3 separate regions of the Homo sapiens genome follow, and all the other regions are linked to region 3. The links come from fine-mapping of genetic effects on gene expression. A gene starts in region 3. Each other region holds a variant in brackets. All regions are shown on one strand. Distances are between the middles of the regions.

Evidence for each region.
Region 1: its variant is fine-mapped to the expression of POU6F1 in whole blood (TOPMed, PIP 0.99).
Region 2: its variant is fine-mapped to the expression of POU6F1 in whole blood (TOPMed, PIP 0.99).

Annotation. Positions count from the first base shown.
Region 1 is chr12:51,374,166-51,385,081 of GRCh38, reverse strand. GALNT6 (polypeptide N-acetylgalactosaminyltransferase 6) reads left to right here. Exons shown (of 12, transcript NM_007210.4): 3 at 5,198-5,791; 4 at 7,715-7,887. The coding sequence starts at 5,301. Among named protein-coding and RNA genes, the nearest start is that of GALNT6, 12 kb to the left of the region's middle. RefSeq lists enhancers at 4,828-5,327, 5,328-5,829. The variant C/T (reference allele first, on the strand shown) is at 5,309.
Region 2 is chr12:51,231,990-51,242,855 of GRCh38, reverse strand. It overlaps DAZAP2 (DAZ associated protein 2), which reads right to left and starts at 4,030. Exons shown (of 4, transcript NM_014764.4): 1 at 3,936-4,030; 2 at 2,395-2,513; 3 at 1,740-1,985; 4 at 1-526. The coding sequence starts at 3,948. The coding sequence ends at 398. RefSeq lists enhancers at 2,431-3,067, 3,784-4,033, 3,957-4,251, 4,343-4,980 and a silencer at 4,124-4,233. The variant G/A (reference allele first, on the strand shown) is at 3,738.
Region 3 is chr12:51,212,518-51,223,433 of GRCh38, reverse strand. POU6F1 (POU class 6 homeobox 1) reads left to right here and starts at 5,372. Exons shown (of 11, transcript NM_001330422.2): 1 at 5,372-5,792. RefSeq lists silencers at 2,912-3,091, 5,199-5,348, 5,549-5,708, 5,939-6,198 and an enhancer at 4,989-5,048.

The DNA.
Region 1 (10,916 bases), 160 kb before region 3:
AGGAGGTCAAGGCTGCAGTGAGCTGAGATTGCACCACTGCACTCCAGCTTAAGGAACAGAATGAGACCCTGTCTCCAAAAAAAAAGAAAGAAAGAAAAAACGAATACTTGCCTGTGTTACATGTGATACATGATGCACTTTGATATTTTCTTTTCATTCTATTCTGGGTTTTTAAAATTTATTTATTTTTATTTTTTGAGACAGGGTCTCGCTCTATTGCCTAGGTTGTAGTGCAGTGGCATGATCATAACTAACTACAGCCTCAACCTCCTGGGCTCAAGCAATCCTCCAGCATCAGCCTCTCAAGTAGCTGAGATTACAGGCCTATGCCACCACACCCAGCTAACTGGTCTCTTTTTGCTAATTGGTCTTTTTTTTTTTTTTTTTTTTGAGACAGAGTCTTGCTCTGTCACCCAGGCTGGAGTACGGTGGTGCTATTTCTGCTTACTGCAACCTCCAGCTCCTAGGTTCAATCAACTCTCCTGCCTCTGTCTCCTGAGTAGTTGGGATTACAGGCACATGCCACCATGCCTGGCTAATTTTTGTATTTTTAGTAGAGAAGGGGTTTCACCATGTTGGCCAGGTTGGTCTTGAACTCCTGGCCTAAAGTGATCTGCCCACCATGGCCTCCCAAAGTGCTGGGATTTCAGGTGTGAGCCACTGTGCCTGGTCCTAACTGGTCTTTTAAAGAAATTTTTGAATGCTAATTTGCAACACTCTGAATTTATTTTATAATATCACAGTGGATTGTAATCAGCAGTTTGATACAAGCTGGGCTGGGTAAAGCCTCAGTTCCTTACACCAGTGAGAGAAGGTAAGTTTGTGTTCTGGCCGGTGGGGCCAGGGAAGCAAATCCCATTTGTTCAATCTAGGCAGGCTTTTCAGAGAGGATTTCTGGCATCATCTCGGGATCAAAGCCAAGGATGGTCCAAAGAGTTGCAGGCCCAAGGGTAGCTGGAGGAAAAAGACTTGGGAAGAAGTGCTGAGCCACAGCGAGAGGGAAATGAGTGGATGGGGGCTGCGGGCACACTTGCCAGGAAAGCAGGAGGCCAGGTGTGGGAGCCCAAAGGTGAGGGAGATATACAAGACACCAGGGGCGGATCTCGTGAAGCTTTGTACTTGAAACAATAGCAAAGAATAGCAGCTATTCTTTCTCCAAGGCTGGTGGAGGGGCGACCTCCACGACCTTGCTAACCATACTTCTGGGAATCATCTCCTACACAGGGAGCAGAAATCCTTAACCCCAAAGTCCTGTGGCTTGCACTAGATTCTGTGTCTCTTCTAAGGGACTCTTCCTGTTGCCCTCATGCTAAGCAAACAAACTAGAGAATGAGTGCCTCACCACCAAGGCTAATCCCAGGTGTCTCATTTCGGTTCAGGATGTGGTTAGTACCTTGAGGAACTGTAGGTTTGAGAGAGAAAGCTTCAGGCAGCCAGATGGGATTGAGAGATTAGATGCCTAGGAAGAGCTCAATTTAACCCTATATTTCTTTCTCCAGGGAAAATAAAAGAAGCAAAAACAGGCCCTGCTGTGAGGGACCACGAGGCAGTGCCAGGATGAAAGAGTTGGAGTAACCTAGGTGATTCTGAGTGAATCAGTCAGGAGGCCTTCCTGGAGGGGGTGAGTCTTGAGCACTGGCAACAGTTAGTAACTACAATCTTACCATGCCTTTGTTTCTAACTGTGCTCCCTCTTTCTTGCTGGAGTGGGAAGGTAGATGGAAAGTAGCAGGGAAGACGAAGCCTGCAGGACGGTTCAAAGCTGTCATGGCAAACACTCCCCCATTCTGCAGGCCTCTGTGTGGGCTTAGCCGGGACAGTTCCAGAACTGATGAGGTGTCTAGCTCAAGCAAATCCCCCTGTGCTAGCCCCAGCATAGCTCAACCTCTGTGACAAGAAACTCCTGCTACACTGAATCCCCATTTCCTCCCCGAAGCCTTCCTCAAACCCACAGGGAACTCTACCTCTCTCAGCTTAGCTCTTACTGTCTGTGCTATTCTGCTTTAATTTTATTCATTTTTGAATAAGTAATATAGTCAGGGTTCAAAGTACAAAAGAGTATTCAGTGAAAGGTCCTTTTCCTGCTCCTGAATCTCCCCTGGTCAGGTGCTTCCTTCACCTGGTCAGTGCTATCAGTTCTCGTTCTCCAATAAGATTTTCAAATCCCTTGGGGAAAGGAATTGAGCCTTTGTGTCCCTCTGTGTACCAGACGGGGTAAACTGTCCCACCCCATCACCCAAGGGGGTCTTCCTAGGCACCATACCCTCCCTCTTCCATCCACACTGCTACTAACTCTCCTGGGTCAGACTCCGAATGGGTCATCCAGCTGCCAAGCAGGTCCCTTTCCAAGATACCCTCCACCGCTGTCATATTGCTCTTCCTGTAATGCTGGGCTCCCAGCTTAACGCTTTATTACTCCCCATGCCTTGGGTCAAGGGCAAATGCTCCTCAGCATGATGAACAAGGCCCTTAGGACTTGGTTTCAGCCACCTCTGTAGGCCCAATTTCTGCTACTCCTGCCATACCAGACTGCTTACAGTTCTGTGACTGGCTCTTCTGTCTCCCACCTCTAGACCATTGCAGGTACTGTGCCTTCTGCCTGAAATGTGCTCACCTCGCCTCGCTGACTCCTACTCGCCAGTTAGTGTTCGGCCCATTTCTGCCCCCGTGAGATTTCTTCACAGATGTTGCCCTCCCCCATTTGCTGAGTTTCCTGCATGCCGGCTCCTTCAGCACTCAAGGGTACCTCTTTGATTCTGCTTCTCACAGGGTAATCTCTGTTTAAAATCTGATGCCCCCAATTGACTGTAGGATCCTTGAGGGCTGGCCTTGCACTTCTCTGTGTCCCCCGCCTCTTGCAGAGTACCTGGTAGAGGCAGTTATTCAGTAAATACTGGTGGAATAAACAAATCTCTCCTATCTCCTAGACAATAGTTAATACAAAATAGATGCTCAAAGAGATTTCTTTTGTTTGATTTTTGACGGTGCTGCTGAATCTGATGTTATAAAAGAAGCCACATTTGTACCCCAGTCCAGAATGAATCCACCTCCCCACTTGAGATCACGATGGCCACATACTCCCAAGGTCTCAGACACCAGGCCTCTCCACAGGCAGGAGCTTGTGCGTTTAAACAATAGCATTAAATAGTACAACCAGAGTTATTTTTAAGCAAAACATGCAGGGAGTAATGAACGTGGCTTTGGCCAAGGGCCAGGTGCTTGAGGATAACTGCTGGGAAGTGAAGCAGGGATTTATCATAATAATAGAAATAGTTGATACCATTTATTGAGGGCTTAGTGTGACAGGTGCTCTGCCAAACATTTTACCTACATTATCTGATTTAATCCTCCCCACAACCCTGTGAGTTAGGTATTAGTTGCCCCCACTTTATAGATGAGGAAATTGAGGCTTAGAGGGATTAAGTAAATTACCCAAGGGTCACACAGCTGCTAATGATCAAAACTAACACTTTGTGGGAACTTACCATGTGCAGAGACTGCTAAGCTTTGTCCATGAATTTTGTGGGGAAGGAGCATAATCCTTGTAACAACCCTAGGAGGTAGGTGCTACTACTAGAAGAGGAAGAACTGGAATTTGTGCCCAGGTCCCTTGCCATTGATGTCTAGTGCTTAACCAGTGAGCTTATGTGTCCAGAACTCTGCACAGAAAGTTCTGCAAGCATTCATCCTCTAGGGCATGGATCCACATGCCTGGGGGTGGAGCCTGGTGAACGCCCATGCCCAGCCCTGCCGGGAATGTCTTGTCATGAAATCTTAGGTTTCTGTTAAATTCTTTTTTATTAAATAGGAGTAGATTACAGATAACTTTTATTTATTTATTTTTAAAGACAGAATCTCTCTCTCGCCCATGCTGAAGAGCAATGGTGCGATTATAGCTCACTGCAGCCTTAACCTCCTGGGCTCCAGCAGTCCTCCTGCTTCAGCCTCCCAGGCAGCTAGGACTACAGGTGTGCACCACTACGCCTCGCTAATTTTTAAAATTTTTTATTGAGATGGGCTCTCAATACGTTGAGCAGACTGGTCTTGAACTCCTGGGCCCAAGCGATCCTCCCACCTCAGCCTCCCAAAGTGCTGGGATTACACCATGCTTGGCCAAGAAATATTTATAAAATACGTATAGGGTCTAAAGAATTACAGTCCACCAGCAGCCGCCATCCACTTTGAGAAAAAAACACTTTGAAGTCCCCCATTAACCATCTCTAATCCTGTACCGTTTTCTTCATCTTCAGAAACTGGTTATGTCATTTCTTTAGCTTTCTTTTTTTCGTGGGGAGACGGAGTCTTGCTCTGTTGCCCAGGCTGGAGTGCAGTGGCATGATCCTAGCCTACTGCAACCTCTGCCTCCCGGGTTCAAGTGACTCTCCTGCCTCAGCCTCCCAAGTAGCTGGGATTACAGGCATGCGCTACCACGCCCAGCTAATTTTTGTATTTTTAGTAGAGACAGGGTTTCACCATGTTGGCCAGGCTAGTCTTCTTTAGCTTTCTTTATAGCTTTATCACATATTTGTATTCAAGAACAAGATATTGTTTAATTTTAGCATGTTTTTACATTTTCTATAAGTGGAATCATACTGTATGTATCCTTTTGTCACTTGCTTTTTTCACCCAACAACACATCCACATTGTTGCATGGAGAAGTGGTTCATTCTTGGTCATCACTGTAGAGCACTGCACGGTATGGGTATTTTGCACTTTATTTATTCATTCTGCTAGTGGACTTAAAGGTTTTACCAGTTTGTTGCCATTTAAGTCAGTGTTGGCTTAAATGTTCTTGTACATACCTCTTGGTTTGCATCTACCAGAGTTTGTCTGGGATATAAAATGAGGAGTGGAATTGCTGGCTCAGGCTGTGTTCATTTCAAATTTTTCTTGATAATACCAAGTTGTTTCCCAAAGCCATAATGATTAAATCTCATGAGTTTAATGATTAAATCTCATGTAGTGTTTCAGTGTTCCAGTGACTCTAGATCCATGCATATTAGGATCTTAGGGCAGGAAAGAAACACTGCCTCCGGTCTCCTCATTTTATGGATGAAGGAAATGTAGATATGGGAAAGTTGTGGCCAATAAGGTGATGCCACCACTCAGCAACAGAGCCTGGCCTCGAACCCCAAGCACCCGACTCCCTCCTTACCCTGTGTTGGCTCACTTCTCTCTCTTGTCCCCTCCTTTCTCAGGCTGAGGCCCCAGCTTGTGGCCACCACAACGTATCAAGCTATCTCCAGGGTTGGGCTCAGGACTCAGAGCTGACGCAGCTGGGGTGCCCCTTGGTTCTGGAGGATGAGGCT[C/T]CTCCGCAGACGCCACATGCCCCTGCGCCTGGCCATGGTGGGCTGCGCCTTTGTGCTCTTCCTCTTCCTCCTGCATAGGGATGTGAGCAGCAGAGAGGAGGCCACAGAGAAGCCGTGGCTGAAGTCCCTGGTGAGCCGGAAGGATCACGTCCTGGACCTCATGCTGGAGGCCATGAACAACCTTAGAGATTCAATGCCCAAGCTCCAAATCAGGGCTCCAGAAGCCCAGCAGACTCTGTTCTCCATAAACCAGTCCTGCCTCCCTGGGTTCTATACCCCAGCTGAACTGAAGCCCTTCTGGGAACGGCCACCACAGGACCCCAATGCCCCTGGGGCAGATGGAAAAGCATTTCAGAAGAGCAAGTGGACCCCCCTGGAGACCCAGGAAAAGGAAGAAGGCTATAAGAAGCACTGTTTCAATGCCTTTGCCAGCGACCGGATCTCCCTGCAGAGGTCCCTGGGGCCAGACACCCGACCACCTGAGTAAGTAGCACCCAGAGTCCTTGTGGGGAGACCAGGGCTTTGCTAAAGGCATGGCTAGTATGGCCAGGGCCATAGATCAAGGGCCAGAGAAAGAGTTGAAGGGAATTTTATAATATGGGCAAGGATCTCCTCTATGCCTCACTTCTTTCCCAGAACAACTGTGCTGATCCCAGGGGTTGTGATTCAAGGGTATTATGGTCAGGCCAGAGGCCCAGGGAGACCTGTGAGAGTGAAATGCAATTATGAAAGTGAGATGATGTGGAAGAAGGAACTCAGCCTGGCACCAGGACCTGGCACGGGGTGACTGGGGAGACCTGATACCAAGCTGTGGTTTCAGTAGCTTTCTCCTCTACTGAGGCCTGCTCCAGAGACTGTGGGACTCTAATGCTGAGCTGTTTGGGGGGGGGGTGGGCATTTCTTAACAGCAACCCTGGTGGTTAGGAATATCCTCACACCTGGTTTCCTCCAGTGAAGGCCCACAAGGCCGGAATTGATTCCAACCTTTATCTGAAGTTGTTTATAGCCTCAATCTTGCACAATGAGATCTCACTTAGATCTTTGAGTGGCAGCCCCCTCCCTCTAACGCCCCCATGGCTGCATTCCCATGATCCTCAAGTTAAAGACAGTGTGTCTTCCCCACTTAGCCTTTGTCTTTTCCAGGTCAAGTGTTATACCCTATTTGGCCTTTTCTCAAATGGCAGCCCTCATCCCCAGATTTCGTGAGTCTTTAGGGCTGTGAACCTGAGGTTCTTGAGACTTGAGCCAAGTATGATAGCCCTAGAACAAGGGGCCACTTGAAGCTATCAGGAATTCCTCAGCAGAGAAGGGCACTGGGGCCAGGCACAGTGGCTCATGCCTATAATCCCAGCACTATGGAAGGCTGAGGTGGGTGGATCTCTTGAGGCCAGGAGTTCAAGACCAGCCTGGCCAACATGGTGAAAGCCTGTCTCTACTAAAAATACAAAAAAATTAGCCCGGCATGGTAGTGGGTGCCTGTAATCCCAGCTACTCAGAAGGCTGAAGGACAAGAATCGCTTGAACCTGGGAGGTGGAGGTTGCAGGGAGCTAAGATCATACCACTGCACTCCAGCCTGAGTGACAGAGCAAGACTCTGTCTCAAAAAAAACAGACAGAGAGAAGAGCACTGGGTGTGACAGCAGCCAGAGGAGGAAGACAGGGAATCTCTCTGGAGGGTCCCCAAGAAATCCTCTGACCAGCAGAGGAGGTCAAGGAAAGGGTGTGAGGTCACATGATTCCTTGAGATCCAGGATTCACACATTCCCACCCCAACCCTGAGATAGAGTGTCAAGAAGGTAGCAGCATGGCCAAGTGCCACAGAGTAGCTGGAGTGGATGAAGTTGGAAGAAAGGTTGCAGGAAATTGACTGTGATAGTGGTGTCAAATCACAGGGAGTTAATGAGAAAATGGATTAGAGAGGAACTGTACGCTGTAAAGGGAAGAGCCTTTTCTTCTCATTGAGTATGGAAATCATAGTCACTTTTCTCAGATGTCAAATTTGGCCTTTATTACCTACCCCTCTGGGACCTCTGGATTGGATTACATTTTATGCAGTTCACATATTACGGAGGAAGAGAGCCAGCCCTGGGAACTCCTAGCCTGAGAGCAGATAGCAGATGAAGGAAGGGGGTGGAGGAGCCTCAGCATCACAGCTGGGGCACTGAGCCAGCTCTGTGGGGATGGATTTTGGAGTGGTTTGGCTAGAACCTGTGCAAAGGCTCAGGGTGGGTGGCAGATACCGGGGAAGACAGGAACAGGGAACAGCTGTTCCCACCTGCTATAGAGAATGTAGGCTGTGGTTCAGAGGAGTGGAGGATGGTCTGGGGGAGTCTCTGGATGGGGCCCTCCCCACACCTGGTACTCCCAGGGACCAGGAGAACTTTGTCCGTACTTTCATACTTCCAGGTGTGTGGACCAGAAGTTCCGGCGCTGCCCCCCACTGGCCACCACCAGCGTGATCATTGTGTTCCACAACGAAGCCTGGTCCACACTGCTGCGAACAGTGTACAGCGTCCTACACACCACCCCTGCCATCTTGCTCAAGGAGATCATACTGGTGGATGATGCCAGCACAGAGGGTGAGGCTGGAGGGGCCCAGAGGAGGGGGCCGGGGTCTCCCCTGGGCACTCAAAGGAGGAGGGCAGTTCCTTTCAAGGGAGCAGGCACCACCTCATGAGCCTGTTGCCTGACATCACAGCTCATCTTAAAGGCCAGGAGCAGGAAGAAGTCAGGTAGGGGCAGGTAGACCATGCTTCCTTCACACCTCAGCCAAAGAGCTCCAAGAGCTTTTCAGCTCTGGCTTCAAGACTCCCTGAACGCTGCCAAGGCCAACCCTAACTCAGAAATGCTGGGAGAGACAGGGCAGAGGGTAGGGACAGGCCTTCACCTCTGTTTCCTACCCGCTGGGCCACTCTTCTGCTCTTGAAGACTCCCCAACCAGCCCTTTTTGCCATAGCTGTTGATAGGTAAGTGGGGTTGCTCACCAAACTTCCAGCCTTCAATTCCACAAACATCTACTGAGTACTGTGTGCCTGGCTCTGACCCAGGCAGAGGGGATGCCATGACAAAGGAGACAGACCCTGCCCTGAAAATACTAAAAACCCCCATAGGTCAGAAGCCTTTTTTTTTTTTTTTTTTTTGAGATGGAGTTTCGCTCTTGTTGCCCAGGCTGGAGTACAATGGTGTGATCTCAGCTCACCACAACCTCCGCCTCCCAGGTTCAAGCGATTCTCCTGCCTCAGCCTCCCTAGTAGCTGGGATTACAGGCATGTGCCACCACACCCAGCTAATTTTGTATTTTTAATAGAGATGGGGTTTCTCCATGTTGGTCAGGTTGGTCTCGAACTCCCGAACTCAGGTAATCTGCCTGCTCCAGCCTCCCAAAGTGCTGGGATTACAGGCATGAGCCACCGTGCCCGGCCAGAAGCCTCTTACAACACTAGCCACAGTGCTGTGGCAGTGATGCACCTGTAACAGGTGTGAAAGGGCATGGACTGCAGAGTCCAACACCTAGGAATTCAAATCCCAGCTCTGACCCTTCCTAGCTCTGTGACCTTGGACAAGCATTTGGCCTCCCTGAACCTGTTTCCTCTTCAAAAAATGGGGGCAGACCGGGCACAGTGGCTCAAGCCTGTAATTTCAGCACTTTGGGAGGCTGAAGCGGACAGATCACTTGAGGTCAGGAGTTTGAGACCAGCCTGGCCAACATGGTGAAACCCCATCTCTACCCAAAATACAAAAAATAATTAGCCAGGTGTGGTGGTGCGCGCTTGTAGTCCCAGCTGCTCGGGAGGCTGAGGCACAAGAATCACCTGAACCCGGGAGGCGTAGGCTGCAGTGAGCCAAGATGGCACCACTGCTTTTCTGCCTGAGAGACAGAGTGAGACTCCTTCTCAAAAAAACAAAACAAAAAAAAGGACTGGGCGTGGTGGCTCACGCCTGTAATCCTAGCACTCTGGGAGGCCGAGGCAGGCAGATTGCTTAAGGTCAGGAGTTCGAGACAGCCCGGCCAATATGGTGAAACCCCGTATCTACTAAAAATACAAAAATTAGCCAGGCGTGGCAGAGCATGCCTGTAGTCCCAACTACTCGGGAGGCTGAGGCAGGAGAATCGCTTGAACCCAGGAGGCGGAGGTTGCAGTGAGCCGAGATCATGTTACTGCACTCCAGCCTGGGCTACAGAGTGAGACTCCATCTCAAAAAAAAAAAAAAAGAGCAGTTGAGTCCCTTACATGGTGGGTGAGGGATATGAGATAGGTCATAAATGAGATTCATGTGCCACAGAGTGGCTGGCATCAAGTAAGAGTGTCACAAGCATGCATTCCATTTTATTCATGGTACGAGAACAATGCACCATGGAGTATGTAGCCAGGAGGTGCCATTTCTGCCTGGCGTGGCTAGGGCTGGTCTGCAGTGGAAGCCAGATTGGAGCTGGGCCTTAAAGGATGAGTGTCTAAGAGAGAAGAGTGGATGAAGGGCATTCCCACAAGAGAATGGCATAAGCACAGTCCTAAAGACATGAATGTGTTTGTTAAAGAGATCTGGTGTGGCTGAAGCTTAGGTTTGTTTAGGAAATGAGACTTAAAAGATGTTAAATTGGCCAGGGACAGTGGCTCACCCCTGTAATCCCAGCACTTAGGGAGGCCGAGGCGGGTGGATCACTTGAGCCCAGGAGTTCAAGACAGCCTGGGCAACATGTCAAGACCTTTTTTCTATAAAAATTACAAAAATTAGCCTGGCATGACGGCATGTGCCTGTAGTCCCAGCTACTCGGGAGGCTGAGCCAGAGCATGACCCTGTCTCAAAAAAAAAAATGTTGAATTGACATTCATGTCATGCTAAAAGCATTTATTTAGAAAGTAAGAAGGAGTCGTTGAAAGTGTTTCATCTGTACTGTGACTTCATTTCAGAAGGATGGCAGCTTTGGAGGAGGATAATCGGCAGGAAGAGAGGCAGAGGACTCACAGTCTGGAGAGGAAGTTCTTACACTCACTTGAGAGTAGGAGATGATGGGGCCTGAACTAGGAAAGGCTGTGGGACTGAGACACCTTTAGGCTGAGAGTCTCCACAAGCTTAGCCCTCCTCGTAGGAGGCATGTGGTGTCTGGGGCTCTCCCAGATTGACCTCCTGTGCTCAAACTCCCAATAGTGAGGGCAGGAACTGACTCCACACTTCCCAGTGTAAGCGCTGGGGCCACTCCAGTAGAGCTGCTTCCTGTCCTTGTCCTCCCCCAGCCTCCCTCCTTCCTCTAGGTTAGGGGTGATGCTGAAAAGAGGACTAGGGCTGTGGAAGGAAGGGCTGAGTGTGAGCCCTGTTGAGTTCATTTCTTCAGGAAGCTCACATCTTCCCAGGGAAGACAGATACTTGGCAGCACTTATAAAGCAAGGCCAGACCAGCCTGGGCAACATATCAAAATCCCATCTCTACAAAAATAAAAAATTAGCAGGCATGGTGGTATTTGCCTGTGGTCCCAGCTACTTGGGAGGCTGAGGTGGGAGGATCACTTGAGCCCAGGAAATTGAGGCTGCAGTGAGCTGTGATTGCACCATTGCACTCCAGCATGGATGGCAGAGTGAGACCTTGTCTCTAAAAAAGATACAAATAAAGT
Region 2 (10,866 bases), 19 kb before region 3:
AGATTAAAGACCAATCAGAATAATTTGGCAACTTTAATTCTTAGGAAGATCAAAGTTCCCTCCAAACCTAATTTGATGTTTTATTACTAAAAGCAAAGACCAGTATGGTACAGTATTACTCCAGAGAAATTAAAGGAAAATCCTTAGGGCGGCTTCACCCACATTCATTTTATGAATGGATACCTCCCCTACCTCAAAATGCTTTAGGGAGGTACTGCTACCATTACATGGTTCCTTATTAAATTTGAAAAGTGCCTGAAAGTTTGGGCACCAGAAAGACACCCCAACAACATGTGTCTAAACTGCAACTTCAGGTTAATATGACTAAAGCAGTTACATTGTGAGAAGTGCTGAAGGTATGTGATGTCTTTCCCGGCACAGAGGTGGCCTTGGTTCCTCACCAGATGGTGTAGCCACCATCTGAACCACCCATGAAGAAGTTCCCCTTCCGCTGAGTTACGAGGACGTTGGCTCCCTGCATGACTGCAAGCTGAGCAGCATTGGGAGGGCATCCAGGAGGTGGAGGCTGAAAGGAAATGACATGATAGAATGGGCACAGGGCAGCTAATATAAGCGAAGGGGACATAGGGGAAGCAGAGGCCTGTTAGGATGAGGCAATGTGCTAACCAGCTGCGTTTTAAGGAGCTAGTTCCGCCACCAATTTGAGTTCTAAAGTAGGTCTATACTTTATGTGAACCCAAAGATACAAACAGGAAAGGGAGCCTACCACTCATTCAAAGGGTTCCAGCTCTAAGATGAAGCCTATGGCTACCTTCTGAACATGAACAGACCAGACCAACAGTCATTTTGAGGGTAGAGAACCACTGTCCTACTCACATTCCCAAAACAGGGACAGGGTGCCAGTCCATGTATGAATCCCACATGGTCCCTACATAGTTTTTAATTTTTAATTTTTTTTTTTTTTAATTTTTTTGAGATAGAGTCTTGCTCTTGTCGCCCAGGCTGGAGTGCAGTGGTGGGATCTCAGCTCACTGCAACCTCCACCTCCCAGGTTCAAGTGATTCTCCTGTCTTAGCCTCCCAAGTAGCTGGGATTACAGACGCCTGCCACCATGCCCGGCTAATTTTTGTATTTATAGTAGAGTCGGGGTTTCACCATGTTGGCCAGCCTGGTCTCAAACTCCTGACCTCAGGTGAGCCACCGTGCTTCGCCCTTACACAGTTTTTGAATGAACTACTGGAAAACTGAAGGCTCGCTAATGACACATTCACTTCATCTCTAGCATGTAGTTACTGAGCAGTCATTTGAGCTCTAAATCCCACGCACTGGGGAATTAAGTAGGAAAAAATGATAACTAAAATTGTTAATATCTTTCTAAAAGCTACTTACTAGGGATTATACATTCTACTTTTTTAATTATCAGGGTTCCTAGTGCAACACCATGCTGATGGCAAATATTAAGTAAATGGTAAATGCTTATGGAATGAATAAGGAGCATTACTAGACCAGTTCAGTGTACCACAATGAACTGGAAAAGCAGCAAGCAGGACTCGACAGACATGAAAACAAAAGAATCTGGTTAACTCAGCCCCCAGTGAGATGCTACTCACTTGCCACAGTTCTGCCCCCTCAAACACTTTCTGCCTGAGTATTGGATGTCAGTAGTTGTACCAACACTGGCAACTATCATCCAGAAATGGTAAGAGAATGAATATGAAGTCATTTCAGAAAGTTAAAATACACAAGGGCTGAGTTTCTTCTGATGAGGTCATACTCACAGGAATGTTGCCAGCAGTAGCCCCAGCTCCAAATCTGGCACCTGCATCATACCCTCCTTCCACCAGCACTGTGGAGCCAGGTGGATAGATGGGACCGACTGGATAATAAGCCATGGGGATTGTGGAACCTAAAGGCCCAACAGCCACAGACTGGGCCATGGGAAGATACAGAGAGGCTCCAGGAAATGCGGCTGACATGGTGGGGACTGTGGCAGCCCCTGGGTGCACAAAGCTCGGACGATAGAGCTAGAAGAGGCAGAAGAGAAGGCAAAATGTTACTTTATGACATTCCTATTTGAGATCTCTTTAATGAGCTAATTCTTAATTCTCCTTATGCAGGTTATACTTTTTGTAAGATTATACAAGTTGCCTTTCCACTGGCCTTCAATATTCTCCTGGATCACTTTCTGCTATAGCTAATGTTGGGCTCACAGAACGCAAATTCATCTTCTGCACCTTAGCCTGTGCCAAATAACACAAAATCATCAAATAATGCACTTTCAACTCCGACAAAAATTGCCAAATTATATAGTGTTTTAGATTATTCATGTTAGCATTTGTGAAGAGTAAATATGTGAAGTCAGATTTAGCTAAGGACTAAAGGACCACCCTAAGAGTATTCCCAGCTAGTTCAAATCTGGCAAACTGGAAGCACCTCTGAGTAGGCAGGTGGAGCATCGGTATAGGGTGGAGCCTGAGGAAGATGCAAGGTCTGAGGGTATACTGGATTCCCAGGAGGCTGCACAGGGTAGGTTGGCTGTGTTGGATATTGACCTGAAAGACAAGAAAAAAATGAAGGTTGCCTACTACACAGAGCTACCAAAATGAGGCAGGTCATATCGGGTAGCTAACTTAGTGGGAGCAAGCAGAAGGGGATTTGCAAATAGTCTGCCCCAGAGGGCCTGATTCCTGGAACTAAGAAAATATGCATTGTCTTTGCACCCTTAAAATGGAAGGTGCTGGATTCTAACGAGACAAGAAAGGCACTGCTCACTGCTCCTACTAACATACCGAAGTAAGGGGTTAAGTCTACCTGGGCCCAAGTTCCCTCCGGAATGCAGGACAGGTCTGGGGTTCTGGCCTGCTGCTGTTCTGGCTTATCAAGGGTGCCTCTGCTCTAGGTAGTCTCCACAGCCTGTCTACAACCAGCCCAGACTTCGTGGGTAACAGCAGTTCTGATTTTCCTTACAGATTACTATTCAAGGTCGACTTCCAAACAAAGGGTGTGAATGATGGAAGTGAACCGTGAGACTGGGAAAAGGGTGCAGGGCTGAGGGGTGAGGAGGAATATCCTCACTGGAAAAGCGGGGGATCAGGTTTGGTTTTTTGTTTGTTCTGAGACGGAGTCTCGCTCTTTTGCCCAGGCTGGAGTGCAGTGGCGCGATCTCGGCTCACTGCAACCTCCGTCTCCTGGGTTCAAGCAATTCTCCTACCCCAGCCTCCCGAGTAGCTGGGATTACAGGCGCCCGCCACCACGCCCAGCTGATTTTTGTATTTTTTAATAGAGACGGGGTTTCACCACGTTGGCCAGGCTGGTCTCGAACTCTTGACCTCAGGTGATCCGCCCGCCTCGACCTCCCAAACTGCTGGGATTACAGGCGTGAGCAACCTCGCTCGGCCTTTTTTTTTTTTTTTTTTCTATTCCTTTTTTACCCCCTCAACCTATTCCTGCGTTATGGGAATCATGTTCCGACAGACACACTGGTACAACCACAGAAAAGGGGAGAAGTTCTGATCCCGTCAGCGAAGGGCGAGGGGGTGCGAAGGGAAGGAAAAGAGACCTCACAGGCCCCGGCCCACGAACCAACTCCAGCAATTCAGTAGTTAAGTTCGGCCCCGCTGGGGGTTCCGGAGCGCGGCGCCCCGCCTCCGCCGGCTCTCCATTGGCCTACGCGAATGCCTGCGCTAGCGCTCTATTTGCTCCTGCGGATGCCCATCATGTCAAGCCCCCCCACCACCCGAGCCCGCAGCTCCAAACTGCGCCACAGAGTTTACGGA[G/A]GAAAGGGCCTGGAGGCAGCAAGCTGCCGTAATTTGGGTATGACGAAGGCGTCAGGCGCAGCGCCCTGGACTGCAGCCGGCCAAGGAGCATGGCGCAGCCCACCCCAAACCTGGCGTTTGGTGACCCTGGGCTCCGAATCCGCTCGCTCTGGGCCAGCAGTACTCCCCCCGACGGCCTCTGCCACCCTCGGTCCTTGCCTTTGCTGTTCATGGTGGTTGCGGGTCCGGTTTGTCTCGGCGTCGCGGACGGTTATTTTTTTCGTCCTCTTCCTGTTCGGAGCTACTTCCGTGTCACATGATGGTCCGTCCGCCTAGCGTCACCCGACGCCCGAGTGGCGCTGCCGCCGGAAACTCCGCCCCTGCTCCGGGCCTCCAGTCGGCCGCGGGAGGGTCCGCGCGGTCCCGCCCACTCGCCTTGGCCCCACCCCCTGCTCGTTTCTGTCCTCCCCCCCCCTACCGGTGTCCCTCAGCTGGAGAAAAACCAAATGCAGGTATTGTCTGGAAACAGGATCTTTTCTCTGTTGGACGCTCGGATGCAGAACGATGCAAGCATTCCCCGGAACCTTTTTCCACCTACACGCATTCACTCAAGGTCACCTCACCTTGGCAACCTTCCACGAGGGGCTTAGATTTCTGCAAATTTGTCGCACTGCCTGAAATCGGCTCCCCACACCTTAGTTTATCATGCGTCCCTCCCCACCAAGCCCAACTTAAGCTTCAGCTCTGTTAAAATTTATTTTGCCACTCCAGCTCACATGTATCCTTTCCTGAATGAGACCTGCACTGGAATCTTCGCTGCCCTGTCTTCCCCAGGACAGTCGTTGCCTTTCTCACGTACAGGAAGGGGTTATGTTTTCCGTGCTGTACGCAACACCTGGCACTGAAACTGACATAACTGCACTACCCATGGAGTGTTTGTGGCCCTTTCCTTTTTTTAGCACCTGTTGCAGGTGACCTGTATGGTACCTCTATTTTTCTCTATGTATGGCTTCTCTTTCTAACCTAATTATCCTTAAGGGCAAAGATGGCATCCTTTAGGGCAGCGATTAAGTGTTTTCTTTTCTTTTTCTTTTTTTTTTGAGACGGAGTCTTGCTCGCTTGCCCAGGCTAGAGTGCAGTGGGGCGATCTCACCACAGCCTCCACCTCCCGGGTTCAGGCAATTCTCCTGCCTCAGCTTCCTGAGTAGCTGGGCCTACAGGCGTGCGCCACCATTCCTGGCTAATTTTTGTATTTTTAGTAGAGACGGGGTTTCACTATGTTGGCCAGGCTGGTTTTCTTTCTTTCTAAAAAAAGTTTTAATTTTTTCTTTTCTTTTTTTTTTTTTTTTTTTTTTTGAGATGGAGTCTTGCTCTGTCGCCCAGGCTGGAGTGCAGTGGCATGATCTCGGTTCACTGCAACCTCCGCCTCCTGGGTTCAAGCAATTCTCCTGCCTCAGCCTCCCGAATAGCTGGGATTACAGGTGCCCGCCACCACGACCGGCAAATTTTGTATTTTTTAGTAGAGACGGGGTTTCACCATGTTGGCCAGGCTGGTCTCGAACTCCTGACCTCAGGTGATCCACCTGCCTCGGCCTCCCAAGGTTCTGGGATTACAGGCATAAGCCACTGCGCCGAGCCTTATTTTTATTTATTTATTTATTTATTTATTTATTTATTTATTTATTTATTTATTTTTGAGACAGAGGCTTGGTCTGTCGCCAGGCTGGAGTGCAGTGGCGCAATCTCAGCTCACTGCAACCTCCGCCTCCAGGGTTCTAAGCGATTCTCCTGCCTCAGCCTCCCGACTAGCTGGGATTACAGGCACGTGCTATTCATTTTTTAATACAGAGATGGGGTCTCCCTGTGTTGGCCAGGCTGGTCTTGAATTTCCAGCCTCAAGCGATCTTGCCACCTCCATTGTCCAATGATTAAAGGGTTAACTCTTAGGACCCAGGAACTCTCCTGGGCCTACCTCCTGCTCATGTAAACTGCCCTCAGATTGGTCAGGCCTACTTTACAGGTTGTTGGGTATTTTGCTTGTCACAGTGGGACCTGGGCATTGGGAAAACCAGGGCAGAGCCAAATGAGATTACTAACAAAAATGAAAGAGTTGCAGGCCAGTGCTTTCTCTGGCAGGTGGAATTAAGAAGTAAATGGTGGCTGGGTGCAACAGCTCACACCTGTAATCCCAACACTTTGGGCAGCCTAGGCAGGAGGATCGCTTGAGCCAGGAGTTCAGAACCAGCCTAGGCAGCATAGTGAGACTTCATCTCTACAAAAAAAAGTAGTAGTAATTAGCTACTTTCTTGAACAGGATCAAACTTTGGCATTTTCTTCATTCTCGTAGATTCCCCAATGAGATGAAGATGTTTATTTGGTCATTTATCAAACATTCTTTCTTACATTAATTTAACAAATATTTTTTGAGCACCTATTATGTGCCAGGCCCTGTGACAGGCACTAGGGAAATAATAATGAAGAGACAGGCATAGTCCATACTCTCATGGAATTTATGGTCTACCTAATGGGAGAGACAGAAAAGTGAACACATAATATGATTAGTGCTGACATAAAGACAGCATGGAGTGTGAGGAGAACACATAGGTGAGGCACCTACTCTATTCTGATGTAGTCAGGGAAGGTTTCCTGATGCAAGTGATGTCTGAGATGAAATCTGAAGGGTGAGAGCAGGTTAAGCAAGTGAAGAGGGTTCCTGGAAGAGGGAACTGCTTATGCAAAGGCCTAGAGGTGAGAAGGCTTATAGAGGGGGAGGGCATGAAAGAGTTCAGTGTAGCCAGAGCATACTGGTAAGGGGACTGATAAAAGATGACCCTGAAGATCCGGGTGCGGTGGCTCATGCCTGTAATCCCAGCACTTTGGGAGGCCAAGGCGGGCAAATGACTTGAGGTCAGGAGTTCGAGACCAGCCTGGCCAACATGGGGAAACCTCGTCTCTACTAAAAACACAAAAATTAGCTGGGCATGGTGGTGCGTGCCTGTAATCCCAGCTACTTGGGAGGCTGAGGCAGGAGAATTGCATGAACCTGGGAGGCGGAGGTTGCAGTGAGCCGCGATCGTGCCATTGCACTCCAGCCTGGGTGACAGAGCAAGATTCTGTCTCAAAAAAAAAAAAAAAAAAATTGACGCTGAAGAACTGTGAGCCAGACCTTGCAGGGACGCCTTAGAGCCCATGTAAGATCCCACATGAAGATACTGGATTCTATGTTAAGGGCACTAGTTAGCCACTGAAGAATGTTAAGCAGGAAAGTGATATGATCTTGTTTTTGTTTGATTGATTGATTGATTGGGACAGGGTCTTGCTCTGTCACCCAAGCTGGAGTGCAGTGGTGCAGTCACAGCTCACGGCAACGTTGAACTCCTGGTCTCAGTTCATCCTCTCACCTCAGCCTCCCGAGTAGCTGGGACAGTGGGTGCTTGCCACCATGCCTGGCTAATTTTAAATTTTTTATAGAGACAGAGTCTCACTTTGTTGCCTAGAGTAGTCTAGAACTCCTGGCCTCAAGCAATCCTCCTGCCTCGGCCTCCCAAACTTGGGATTACAGGCGTGATCCACTGCTCCTGGCTTGTGTTTTTCTTTTAGAAAAATGCTTCTGGGCCAGGCACAGTGGCTCATGCCTGCATTCCCAACAATTTGGGAGTCCAAGGCAGGAGGATTCTTTGAGCCCAAGAGTTCAAGACCAGCCTGTGCAACGTGGTGAAACCCCATCTCGGCAAGAAATTTCTAAAAAAGTATCCAGGCATAGAGGCACGCACCTGTGATCCCAGCTACTCGAGGGGTTGAGATAGGAGGACTGCTTGAGCCCGGGAGGTCGAGGCTGCAGTGAGTCGTGGTCACACCACTGTACTCTGCCAGCCTCGGTGATAGAGGCTATCTCAAAAAAATAAAGAAAAGAAAAGGAAAAATCCCTCTGGTTGCTAAAGAATATAGAATAGGTTAAAGAAAGGGCAAGAGTGGACGTATGTCTGAGATACCATTTAGAATCAAATTTAGTCATTTAGGTGTGATGATGGCAGACTGGCCTAGGGAAGAGGCAGTACAGTAGAGAGAAATGGGGGGATTCCAGAAATATCCAGGAAGCAGAAACAACTGGACTAGTTCCAGGACTAATGTCAGGACAAAATTTCTACAAAGTCAAAACTCCATATAGTCAAATGACAAATTGGAAAAATATATTTGTAATTTACATCACAAAGAGCTAATCTTCCTGCATGTAAAGAACTCTTAGACATCAGTAAGAATATGATCAACCATTAGAAAAAAATGGCAAATGACATTTACAGACAGACAGTTCACAGAAAAGGAAAAACAAATGACTCCCTAACACATGAAATGATGTTCAGCCTGGGTCGTAATCAGAAGGCAGATTAAACCCCACCGATATCATTATCAGATTGGCGAAAATCCAAACATTTGCTAACATTATTTGCAGGGCTGTGGATAAGCAGGCATTCTAATTTGTTGGTGATGGGGGTGAAAATTGGTACAAATCCTATAAGGTTAATTTGGCAATATCCATCAAACTTGCAAACATACCATTCCCACTAATGGGAGTGATTCTACAGATATATTTGCACTCACGAGAAACGTATGTATAAGGCTATTCATTGCAGCTTTTCTGTAACAGCAAAAGATTAGAAATAACCCATATTTCTATCAATAGGAAACAGAAAAAATAAATCTTGATACATCCATACAATAAAATACTATGTGGCTGCAACAGAGAATGAGAAAGTACTCCAAGGTGTTCTTTAAATAAAAAAGGGAAAGATTCAAAACCATATACTTAGTGTGATACATTTTATTTATTTTATTTTTTATTTTATTTTGAGACAGAGTTGCACTCTTGTCACGCAGGCTGGAATGCAGTGGCGTGATCTCGGTTCACTGCAACCTCTGCCTCCCAGGTTCAAGTAATTCTTGTGCCTGAGCCTCCCAAGTAGCTGGGATTACAGGTGTGCACCACCATGCCTGGCTAGTTTTTGTATTTCCAGTACAGGCGGGGTTTTGCCATGTTGGCCAGGCTGGTCTCGAACTCCTGGCCTCGAGAGATCCACCCGCCTCGCCCTCCCAAAGTGCTGGGATTACAGGCGTGAGCCACCGCACCTGGCCAATATGATACTTTTTATGTCAAAGAGCAGGGAAACCAAGAATATTCATCAGAATTTGAGTAAAGAAATTCTGGAAGGATACACAAAATACCTATAAAAGTGGTTACATAAGGGGGAGAGGGAGTGGAGGATGTGAGACAAAGGTGGAAGTGACTTTTTACTATATACTTTTTAGACGTTTAAAAATATTTGAACCTATAATCCGAGCACTTTGAGAGGCCAAGGCAGGAGGATCACTTGAGGCCAGGAGTTCGAGACCAGCCTGGGCAACATAATGACACCCCATCTCCACACACACAAAAGTAAATCAATTAGCCTGGTGTGGTGGCACATACCTATAGTCCCAACTACTTGGAAGGCTGAGGTGGGAGGATCACTTGAGTCCAAGAGTTCGAGGCTGCAGTGAAGATAATGGCACCACTGGGCTCCCGCCTGAATGACATAGCAAGATCCTGTCTCAAAAAAAAAAAAAATGAGGCTGGGCGCAGTGGCTCACGCCTGTAATCCCAGCACTTTGGGAGGCCAAGGCAGGCAGATCACCTGAGGTCAGGAGTTCGAGACCAGCCTAGCCAAAATGGCGAAACCTCGTCTCTACTAAAAATACAAAAATTAGCCAGGTGTGGTGGCACACGCCTGTAATCCCAGCTACTTGGGAGCCTGAGGCAGAAGAATCGCTTGAATCTGGAAGATGGAGGTTGCAATGAGCCGAGATCAAGCCACTGCACTACAGCCTGGATGATGCTCCAAAACAAACAAACAAAAACATTGAACCATGTGAATGCTTACCTAGTCAAAAAATTAAAACAATGTTGGCTTCCCTATTACAATGGCTAATATTAAGACTGGACAGGGTGCAGTGGCTCACACCTGTAATCCCAGCACTTTGGGAGGATCACTTGAGCTCAGGAGTTCAAGACTAGCCTGGGCAACATGGTGAGACCCCATCTCTGTTTAAATTTTAAAAAATAAAAATAAGTAAAAGAAGACTGACCACATCAAGTGTTGGAGAGGATGTGGAGGAAGTGGAATTCTCACACACTCTGGTTAAAATCTTAAATGGTGCAACCTCTGTCAGGGCAAACTGCTGGTCATAATAAGAAAGAACAAAATGGTGCAACCACTTTGGAAAACAGTTTGGCAGGGTCTTTAGAAGTTAAACATCCATACACCACATGATCTAGCCATTCCACTCCTAGGTATTTACCCAAGAGAAAAGAAAACACATGGGTACACAAGGACTTATACATGGATATTTATAACAGCTTTATTTGTCATATCCAAAAATCAGAAGCAATGAAAGTGTCTACCAACAGGTAAATGGATAAACAAATTTAATGCCATACAGTAGAAAGGAATAAAGTATGGATCCACAAAACAACATGGATAATCTATGCTCAGTAAAGGAAGCAGATTTTTAAAATAAGAATACATACTATAGAATTTTTTTTTTTTTTTTAGATATAGGGTCTTGTTATATTGCCCAGGCTGGAGTGCATAGGCGTGGTCATAGTTCATTGCAGCCTTGAACTGGGCTGAAGGAATCCTCCCACCTCAGCCTCTCAAGTAGCTGGAACTACAGGCATGTGTCACTGTGCCCGTTGGATTCCATTTATATACAATTCTAGGAATACAAACTATAGTGATAAAAAGCAGATCAATGGTTGCTGTGAAGGGAAGCAGAAGGGGAAGGAAGGAGGTTGTAAATGGAATGTAGGAAAGTTCTGGGACTGATGAATATATACTCATTGCCTTGATTGTGGTGATGGTTTCATGGGTGTGCCTTTTTTTTTTTTTTTGAGATAGAGTCTCGCTTTGTTGCCCAGGCTGGAGTACAGTGGCGCAATCTCGGCTCAATGCAACCTCCACCTCCCGGATTCAAGCGATTCTTCTGCCTGCCTCAGCCTCCTGAGTAGCTGGGATTACAGGTGCCCGACACCATGCCTGGCTAATTTTTGTATTTTTAGTAGAGGTGGGGCTTCACCATGTTGACCAGGCTGCTCTGGAACTCCTGACCTCAGGTG
Region 3 (10,916 bases):
GCACGGTCTCAGCTCACTGCAACTCCAGGTTCAAGCGATTCTCTTGCCTCAGCCTCCCGAGTAGCTAGGACTACAGGCACATGCCACCACACCAGGCTAATTTTTGTATTTTTAGTAAAGACGGGGCTGGGCGCGGTGGCTCATGCCTGTAATCCCAGCACTTTGGGAGGCCAAGGTGGGAGGATCACGAGGTCAGGAGATCAAGACCATCCTGGCTAACACAGTGAAACCCCATCTCTGCTAAAAAAAAAAAAAAAAAAAAAAAGAAAAATACAAAAAAATTAGCCAGGCGTGGTGGTGGGCACCTGTAGTCCCAGCTGCCCGGGAGGCTGAGGCAGGAGAATGGCATGAATCTGGAAGGCAGAGCTTGCAGTGAGCCGAGATCACGCCACTGCACTCCAGCCTGGGTGACAGAGCGAGACTCCGTCTCAACAAACAAACAAAAAAGTAAAGACGGGGTTTCACTATGTTGGCCGTGCTGGTCTCAAACTCCTGACCTCGGGATCCACCTGACTCGGCCTCCCAAAGTGCTGGGATTACACCCGTGAGCCACCGTGTCCGGCCAAATAAAACTCTTCAACAGGATTCTCAGCCCAGCACGTTTTCGTTTTCTCCTTCACTCACATTTCCCCAACTTTCCGAGCCTTCATTTATTCAATAAGTAATTATTATCTACTGTGTGCCAGATAACTGGGCTTGGTGCCAAATGTCCAGTCAAAAACAAAATGGACTGTTGCCTTGGAATTTACTGCCTACTCGGTAAACATATTAAATAGAAAATAAACATACAAATACATCAGCACACATGGTGATTAAGAAAACGGGAAGGTGATACGAGACAAAATAACACTGAAGTGCAGGGAAAATGTCTCTGAGGAAGGAAGCCATATATAAGGCAAGGCCTGAAAGATGGGCTAAGGAGGAGGCAGAAGAAACAGCATAGGCAGACACAATGAAGGCAGGAAAGAGCTCGAAGTTTAAGAACCTGAAAGTGGATCAGTATCGATGGGTCTTAGTCCGTTTGGGCTGTTATAACAAAATACTATAGGTCGGGTGCAGTGGCTCACGCCTGTAATCCCAGCACTTTGGGAGGCCGAAGCAGGTGGATCACCTGAGGTCAGGAGTTCAAAACCAGCCTGGCCAACATGGTGAAGACTCATCTCTACTAAAAATACAAAAATTAGCCGGGCATCGTGGTGCATGCCCGTAATCCTAGCTACTCGAGAGGCTGAGACAGGAGAATAGCTTGAACCCGGGAAGTGGAGGTTGCAGTGAGCCAAGGTCTCATCACTGCACTCCAGCCTGGGTGACAGAGCAAGACTCTGTCTCAAAAAAAAGTAAAATTTTAAAATAAAAATAATAAAATATTAGGCCAGGCGTGGCGGCTCACACCTGTAATCCTAGCAATTTGGGAGGTGGAGGCAGGCGGATCACCTGATGTCAGAAGTTTGACATCAGCCTGGCCAACATGGTGAAACCCTGTCTCTACTAAAAATACAAAAATTAGCTGGGCACGGTGGCACATGCCTGCAATCCCAGCTACTTGGGAGGCTGAGGCAGGAGAATCGCTTGAACCCAGGAGGCAGAGGTTGCAGTGAGTGGAGATCGTGCCACTGCACTCCATCCTGGGCTAAAGAGTGAGACTCTGTCTCAACAACAACAACAACAAAAGCCAGGTGCGGTCTTTGGCATGCCCAGGCAAAAAAAGAAAAAAAAATTTTTTAAGTAATATACTTTGTTTTTTGTTTTTGAGACGGAGTCTCACTCTGTCACTGAGGCTGGAGTGCAGTGGCACCGTGTCGGCTCACTGTAACCTCCGTCTCCTGGGTTCAAGCAATTCTCCTGCCTCAGCCTCCCGAGTAGCTGGGATTACAGGAGCCCACCACCACGCCCGGCTAGTTTTTATATTTTTAGTAGAGACGGGGTTTCACCATGTTGGCCAGGCTGCTCTCGAACTCCTGACCTCAGGCGATCCACCCGCCTCAGCCTCCCAAAGTGCTGGGATTATAGGCATGAGCCACAGCGCCCAGCCAAAAAGTAATAAACTTTCATTGCAAGAAGACTACCAATACCACATACTGGTGAGGATGTAAAACAATTAGAACTCTCTCATGCATTGCTGATAAAGATATAAATTGGTTCAAACACTATAGAAAACTATTTAGCAGTATGGACAAAAGCTAAATAAAATAGAATAGCTATTCTACTCCTCAGTATTTACCTGGAAGAAATAAGTGCATATGTTCACCAAAATACTTGTACAAGAATGCTCATAGCAGTTTTATTCCTAAGAGGCCCAAACAACAAGCAAATGCCCATCAATAATGGAATGGATAAATTGTAGTATAATTATGCAATGGAATACTACACAGCAATAAAAAATACTTCTACATTCAACAACATGGATGAATCTCAAAAACATATATTGAGGCCGGGTGTGGTGGCCGACACCTGTAATCCCAGCACTTTGGGAGGCCGAGGAGGGCGGATGACTTGAGGTCAGGAGTTCGAGACCAGCCTGGCCAACATGGTGAAACCCTGTGTCTACCAAAAGTATAAAAAATTAGCTGGGAGCGTGGTGGCTCATGCCTGTAATCCCAGCACTTTAGGAGGCTGAGGTGGGCGGATCATGAGGTCAGGAGTTCAAGACCAGCCTGACCAACATGGTGAAACCCCATCTCTACTAAAAATACAAAAATTAGCCGGGCATGGTGGCGTGTGCTTGTAATCCCAGCTACTCAGGAGGCTGAGGCAGGAGAATCACTCGAACCTAGGAGGTGGAGGTTGCAGTGAGCTGAGATCACACCATTGCACTCCAGCCTGGGCGACAGAGCGAGACTCCATCTCGAAAAAAAAAAGAAAAAAAAAATTAGCTGGGCGTGATGGCACGCACCTGCAGTCCCAGCTACTTGGGAGGCTGAGGCAGGAGAACCACTTGAACCCGAGAGGCGGAGGTTGCAGTGAGCCGAGATCACACCACTGCACTCCAGCCTGGGCGACAGAGCAAGACTCCGTCTCAAAAAAAAAAATTTTGTTGAGTGACAGAAGCCAAACACAAAAGATTGCATATTGTCTGATTCCATTTATGAGAAGTTCAAGAATCAGCTCAAGTAATCAATCTATGGTGACAGAAATCAGAATAATGGTTACTTTGGGAATTTATGGCCGGTGAAGGTACATAAGGGAATCCTCAGGTCTTGGAAAGGCTCTATATCTTGTTTTGGGTGGGGATTACATGGATATATATATGTGTGTGAGTATATACATGTATATATAGACATGTATATATGTATACACGTATCTATACACGTGTATATATGTATACACACACACGTACATATGTATACACACACATACACGTACATATGTACACACACATATACACGTACATATGTATACACACATATACACGTACATATGTATACACACATATACACGTACATATGTATACACACATACACGTACATATGTATACACACACATACACGTACATATGTATACACACACATACATACACGTACATATGTATACACACATACATACACGTACATATGTATACACACATACATACACGTACATATGTATATACATGTAAAAATTTATCAAGGTATACACATACTGTGTACATGTTATGCCCCAATAAACACAGAAACAAAAAGTAATATATGCTCATCAAATATTTAAGCAATGCAGAAGTGTATACAACATAAAGAAAACCGTGATTAACATTTTTATGTATGTCTCCCTGAACTCCTCTGATCACATCCATATTTCTTTCTTCAAACTGTCGCTGATATCCATGCTATCCAAAGCCTTTGATCTATGTGTAGCACCAAACCAAGTGACATAAATGAAAAGTTTCAACCTTCATGTGACAAAGTTCAGCAGCAATACTGAGCCCCTCCTTCACATAAAGAGTAGTGGGAAATACAAACATGAGTAAGTCACAACCAGTGCTCTCAAAGAATTCACAGTCCAGGGAGAGAAACTACAGGGACTACCGGCCAAACAAAAACCCCAAGAACTGTAATATCAAGCCACGCAGTAGAGTTTCACAGGGCCATTAAAACGAGTTCAAACTATTGTACAAGGAATGACACCTTACAGTTGTATAGAGCTTGCAGCTTTCAGTTTTTTCACATACAGGCTCACAAACTTAACCCTATGAAGTAGTCATTATAAATGTCATTATAAATATTATCCTTGTTTTATAAGTAATGAAGAAGTTAAATTACTTGCCTGGACGGCTAGTGGAAGAGTTGGGACTAAAACCTAAGTATTCTGACTCCTAATACATTGGTTACTCATAAATCCGCCGCCAGCAGTACCTGCTCACTTCCAGATGGAAACAGCAAGCTGATAACAGCCTAGTCCACTGGCCAGGTTAACGACGAGGCCGGGCCATTCAATGCCCTTCCACCACGAGGCCTTACGGAGCAGTCCCGGGGAGGACTGAGGCCTCCAACTGCATTCTCACACTGCCTCTAACCCATCTACCTCTAGCTATCCTCAGACCACCAAATATCGGGAGAGGGTGGGAGGGGGAACAGCCTAGGATGACAGCAGGTGGCCTCAGTATTGGGATCCACATTCACTGGATTTACAGAGCCTCCTTCCTTCCCAGTTCTTCTCTCCATTCCCACGCTTCCACTTTGGTCTTCCAACTTTTTCCTCTTTCAGTTGTCCACCACTTCTCCAATCTGCTTTCCCTCAGCCACCCACATCCACCCCTTTTCTGGTCCCCTCTCTACCTTAAGAAGCTGCTAGAGGTTTTTCACCATTCCACTGAACTTTGTCTTTCTGTTCACATTTCCTTGTCTACTTGGACAAGAAGGCCGGAAATCTGCTTTTAGACAACACAGCCCACGGCCGCCACCGGGTGAGAGACCTGGGACCCTTCGCTGCTTTGGCGCTGGGGCACAGCTGTTCAGAGGTTCTCCACGTTGGCTGAGCGATGTCTGAGTTCCCCCGCCTTTCTAGGGAGGGAGGGATAGACATAAACTTGACTTTCAACATTGAGGACAGTTGACTACCTAGAGGAAAGGCGGTGGCCGGGAGTCACCGCCCCAACCCTCAGCTGAAGGCCATGTGGCATGGAGGGTCCGGACTCCAGCTCCTACTCTGGCACCTTCCGAAATGAAACCACCTCCGCGGCACCTCGGAGGGGCTGAGTAACCAGACCCACTGACCGTCCATCCCTGTCCCGGGAGAGAGCCTCCGGGACCTCCCGCTCGGCCAGGGCCAGAGGGTCCCCTCCCCACCCCCACCCCTCGCTCCTGGCTCCCGTGCTCCCCTCCCTTCCCTGACCGCCCTCCCAGCCCGCCGCCCCCGGCGGCTGGCGCGGGCGGTGCAGCATGCGGCAAAGCTCTTTGCATAAATTATGCTCATGACGCAGCAGCTAAAAAAATCCAAGTAGCAGAAGGAGGGAAAAAAGGGGGGGAGGGAAAAGGGGGGGGTCGTGGAAGGGGGAACGAAGAAAAATATATACCTGACCGCCCCCCCACCCGGCTTCCCCTTCCCGCTTCCCGGCCGTCCCCTCTCCGCCCGGCTTAGCCTGCGGAGCCCCCTTCGGCTCTGCCCAGCCCAGGCTGGGGGCCTGGGGGCGGCGGCGGGTCCCGACCAGCTCCCGGGCCGAGCCGAGCCCAGCCAAGCCGCACTGGCTTCTTTGTCTGCGGGCGGCGGCCGCCGTGGCCCCGGCCCCGGCCCCGGCCCCCTGGCCCGGGCTGTGAGATGAATCTCTAATCGGTGGCCGCCAGACACCCGCGGCGAAGGCGGCTCGGGCTCGGGCTCCGGTAAGTAGCGGGGTCCGGGGCGGGGAGGGGTTTGCACGGAGGGGGAGGGGGCCGGGCAGGGGAGGTTTCGGGTTTGGTTAATATGCAATGCCCGTAATTAGCATAATTTATATATTTATGATAAAGAGAAAAAAAGCCGCGGGGCCGGGGCGGCGGGATGCTGGGCCGGGGCGGCGGGGAGCTGCGGGAGCGGGACAGCGCGCGGTTGCCCAGCTGGGGCTAGACACCCGGGGGCCGCGCCCTCGCCCGCCCGCGGGCCGCTCTGGACCTGGAGCGGAGGGGGCGGCCGCCAGGTGGACCCGGTGGGGAACCCCGACCTGGCCCCTCCCCGTTTCTGCCCCTGGAGCCCTTGTGGGGTGCGGACCACAGGGGACGCTCTGTACACAGAACCAGTGGCGACCAGAAGCGGATCCTTGCCTCTCTGGAGAACACGGACGCCTGGGTTCCCGGCGGTTAGGGCCAGCTGGGGCGGCCAGGGTGACCTGTCACGGTTCTCCCGAATGAACAAACTCCGGGACGACCGGTGGGACCCGGGGGTAGGGACCCAGGCGTTGCTGGAAGGGTGGGTCAGTGATGGGAGGGCCACCTTCTAGCAGAGCATGAGCACTTCATAAATATTTAATATCGATATTATTATTAATAAATAGTCATAATAATGGGCCCGATGCAGGCTCCCTGGGCAGGCTCACCTGGCAAGGCCAAGGGAGCTCCCAGCATACCCTCTAACCTCCACTTTCGCGGCAGAATACCCCACTCAGCCCGACTGGAAGCCTAAAACCTTCACAGAATAGCCTCTGCGGCTGGGCAGGGGGAAATCAGAAGAGTTCGGGAAGCATTCCTGGGCCAAAGAAAAGAGGCTCTTTGCAGAGATTTTTAACCTCATCTGCCCTTCCCAAATTCCTTGTTCCAAAAGTAGAGGGCTGGTCTTCAATTGTTCATATACATGTGTCCCATGCCCCTTATTTAGCAATCTAAGGCAGCCACCATTGACTGGCAGAGGCCTTCTGAGGAATAATTCCATATATTCCATTTTCATTCAAGTCCTGGTCCTCAAAGTGATACTTCTGTGACCTGGTACTCCGCTTATCTGCTGTAGAACTTCATTTCTTCATTAGTTCAACAAAAATACCCACTCAGTGCCATGCTCTGAACAATTCAGACAAAACTTCTATCATGGAGTTTTTATTCTGGGGGTGGACAAGTAGATGCTAAACATTAAAACTAACAAGGTAATACCATAGAGTGATTGTGTGTCAGTGTGTGTGTATGTAGCCATTTATTCTGTTTTGTTCCTGGAAGTACTAGCTGGCAGTTAAGAAAAGTGACTCAGAAAAAATTTGCTCCTGTAAGGTTTTTCTGCATTTTGAAGGAACTTGGGATAAGCTCATATTCTTGTCCCCAAGATTTACTCACCATAAAATTATCAGAGTAATCTTTTACATTTTCTTTTTTTTGAGACAGAGTCTAGCTGATTTTTTTGTATCTTAGTAGAGATGGGGTTTCACCGTGTTGCCCAGGCTGGTCTCGAACTCCTTAGCTCAGGCAATCCAACCGTCTTGGCCTCCCAAAGTGCTGGGATTACAGGCGTGAGCCACCGTGCCTGGCCATCTTTTACATTTTTAAAATGCTTTATAATTTAAAACATTTTTATATGCATGCTTTACTTCAGTTCAAAATAATAGCAATGATAATAACAAACATATATATAGTGTTTGCTTCATGCTAGGCCCTGTTTTAAGTGCCTTCCATAAATATTATCAATTTAATCCTCACAATAACCCATGAGGTGGTTACTATAATTTGGTTCCATTTTGGATAAGGAAACGGAGGCTTATAGGGATTACCTCTAGTAGAAGCAGTACTCAAGCTGGGTCTTCTGCCTTTAAACCTGCCTTTGACCCCTCATGTCAAAATGAGGGTTCATGAGGCAGAAGAGAGAGTGGGATGCAGGAGAAACTGGCCACAGGAGGAAGGCTTGGAATGAGAAATTAGACGGGCGCTTTAGGAAGGGGCCAGTGTGGTCTGGGTTCTCCAGAACCCAATACTACACCTTGGAAATCTCTCTTTTTTTTTTTTTTTTTTTTTTGAGACAGGGTTTCACTCTGTCGCTCAGTCTGGAGTGCAGTGGCGCGATCTTGGTCTCACTGCAACCTCCACCTCCCGGGTTCAAGCAATTCTCCCACCTCGGCCTCCCAACTAGCTGGAACTATAGGCGCACACCACCATGCCTGGCTAATTTTTGTATTTTCAGTAGAGACGGGGTTTCACCATGTTGGCCAAGCTGGTCTTGAACTTCTGACCTCAAGTAATCCGCCCGCCTCGGCCTCCCAAAGTGCTAGGATTACAGACGTGAACCACCACACCCGGCCTGTACCACGTCTTTGAAATCATTTTTAAGTAGCCCCAGTACTGGAAATGGAGGCAAAACATTTGAAGTAGGGTGTGTGTTTTGAGGGAAAAGGTAGGAAATAATAAGAGGCTAAGTGATGTGGCTATGACGTGACCTCGTATCTTCAATTGTTTTCAGCCCATATTCATGAACCTAGTTATATACCAGATATTATCTTAGGCACCAGGGATATGATGATAAGCAGACATGATCCCTGCCTTCCTGGAGCTTACAGTCTACTAGGAACATACCTACTTTTCATTTTTCACATTTCTTTTTTTTTTCTTTTTTGAGACAGGTTCTCACTCTGCTGTCACCCAGGATGGGGTGCAGTGGCACAATCTTGGCTCACTGCAGCTTCACCTTCTTGGGCTCAAGCGATTCTCTGGCCTCAGCCTCCCAAGTAGCTGGGACTACAGGCCTGCGCCACCACACCCAGCTAATTTTTTATTTGTTTGTTTGGGTTTGTTATGTTTTGGTAGAGATAGGGTTGCACCATGTTGGCCAGGCTGCCCTCCAACTCCTGACCTCAAGTGATCCACCCGCCTCAGCCTCCCAAAGTGCTGGGATTACAGGTGTGAGCTACTACCCTTGACTCTACTCTCCTATTTATTTGGTCACCTCATCATTCTTTTTCCTTTCTCTGGCCTGTGTGTGCCTAGCTGTTAGCCTACCAACAGCTTGGCAAGACTGTTATCTCTGCTCATGGTTCAGGGTGTGGGGACAGGCGTCGGTGTGGAGCAGAATTGAGATCCTCTGTTTTCCAGTGTGTCCTGAGCCTTGGGGACCAGAGCAGTCCCCATCAGCCTTACCCCCATTTCCTGAGAGGAGGTTCTGTGTGGTGTCAGGAGGATGGGGTCCGGGGCAGGTCGACAGAGCCTTGAAGTTTGAATCTGCCACTGACTCTCCTGTGCCCTTGGTCAAGTCACCTGACCTCTCTCTACCTCTATGTACATATAGATAAAAATGAAGATGATTGTGGTAAGAGTCATGCTAAGCATTTCATTTACATGATCTCATATCACCATCATAACAATCCCATAGGGCTTGCCTATTTAATCACCATTTTATTTATTTATTTATTTATTTATTTTTATTTATTTATTTTTTTGACATAGAGTCTCACTGTGTCTCCCAGACAGGAGTGCAATGGCATGATCTCGGCTCACTGCAACCTCCGCCTCCCGGTTCAAGCGATTCTCCTGCCTTAGCTACCCAAGTAACTGAGATTACAGGCACCCGCCACCACACCCAGCTAAGTTTTGTATTTTTAGTAGAGATGGGGTTTCCCCATGTTGGCCAGGCTGGTCTTGAACTCCTGACCTCAGGTGATCCTCCTGCCTTGGCCTCCCAAAGTGCTGGAATTACAGGTGTGAGCCACTGCGCCTGGCCTAGTCACCATTTTAAAGATAACGAAATTAGGCCGGATGTGGTGGCTCACGCCTGTAATCCCAGAACTTTGGGAGGCCGAGGTGGGCAGATCACAAAGTCAGGAGTTCGAGACCAGCCTGGCCAATATGGGGAAACCCCGTCTCTACTAAAAATACAAAAATTAGCTGAGCAAGGTGGTGGGCGCCTGTAGTCCCAGCTACTCGGGAGGTTGAGGCAGGAGAATCGTTTGAACCTGGGAGGCAGAGGTTGCAGTTAGCCGAGATCATGCCACTGCACTCCAGCCTGGGCAACAAGAGCAAGTCCTCGTCTCAAAAAAATAAAATAAAATAAAATAAACCATAGAAATGGGCCAGGTATGGTGGCTCATGCCAGTAATACCAGCACTTTGGGAGGCTGAGGTGGGAAGATAATTTGAGCCCAGGAGTTGGAAACCAGCTTAGGCAACATGGAAAGACCCTGTCTCTGAAAAAAAATGATAATAAAACCAGAAATGGATCTGAGTTTAAAAGTCTGAATCCCATACAAGTTCCATTTTCCTACATAGGACAAGATTCTTTTACATAAAATTTCATGTCTGAAATACAGGCCTCCCTGGGAACAAGCACCACATAAAACTGCATTAGAGGCCGGGCGCGGTGGCTCACGCCTGTAATCCCAGCACTTTGGGAGGCCAAGGCGGGTGAATCATCTGAGGTCAGGAGTTCCTGACTAACCTGGGCAACATGGTGAAACCCCGTCTCTACTAAAAATACAAAAATCAGCCTGGTGCGGTGATGCGCACCTGTAGTCCCAGCTACTCAGGAGGCCGAGGCAGAAGAATTGCTTGAACCTGGGAGGCGGAGGTTGCAGTAAGCCGAGATCCCGCCGCTGCACTCCAACCTGGGTGACAGAGCGAGACTCCGCCTCGAAAAAAAAAAACAACTGCATTAGGTCATTAGGTGTTAGGTGTCCCTCTTGTAGATTCTTTACTGCTTTCTGTTCACCCACCATGAAACTTAAGCATACTGTATTGTAGTTACCTTCTTATTTCCTTGACTCCCATATTGGACTATAGCTTTCTTTTTTTTTTTTTTTTTTTTTTTTTGAGACGGAGTTTCACTCTTGTTGCCCAGGCTGGAGTGCAATGGTGCGATCTTGGCTCACCTCTGCCTCCCTGTTGTTCAAGCGATTCTCCTGCCTCAGCCTCCCGAGTAGCTGGGATTACAGGCATGTGCCACCACCCCAGGCTAATTTTGTATTTTTAGTAGAGACGGGGTTTCTCCATGTTGATCAGACTGGTCTCGAACTCCCGTCCTCAGGTGATCTACTCGCCTCAGCCTCCCAAAGTGCCGGGATTACAGGCA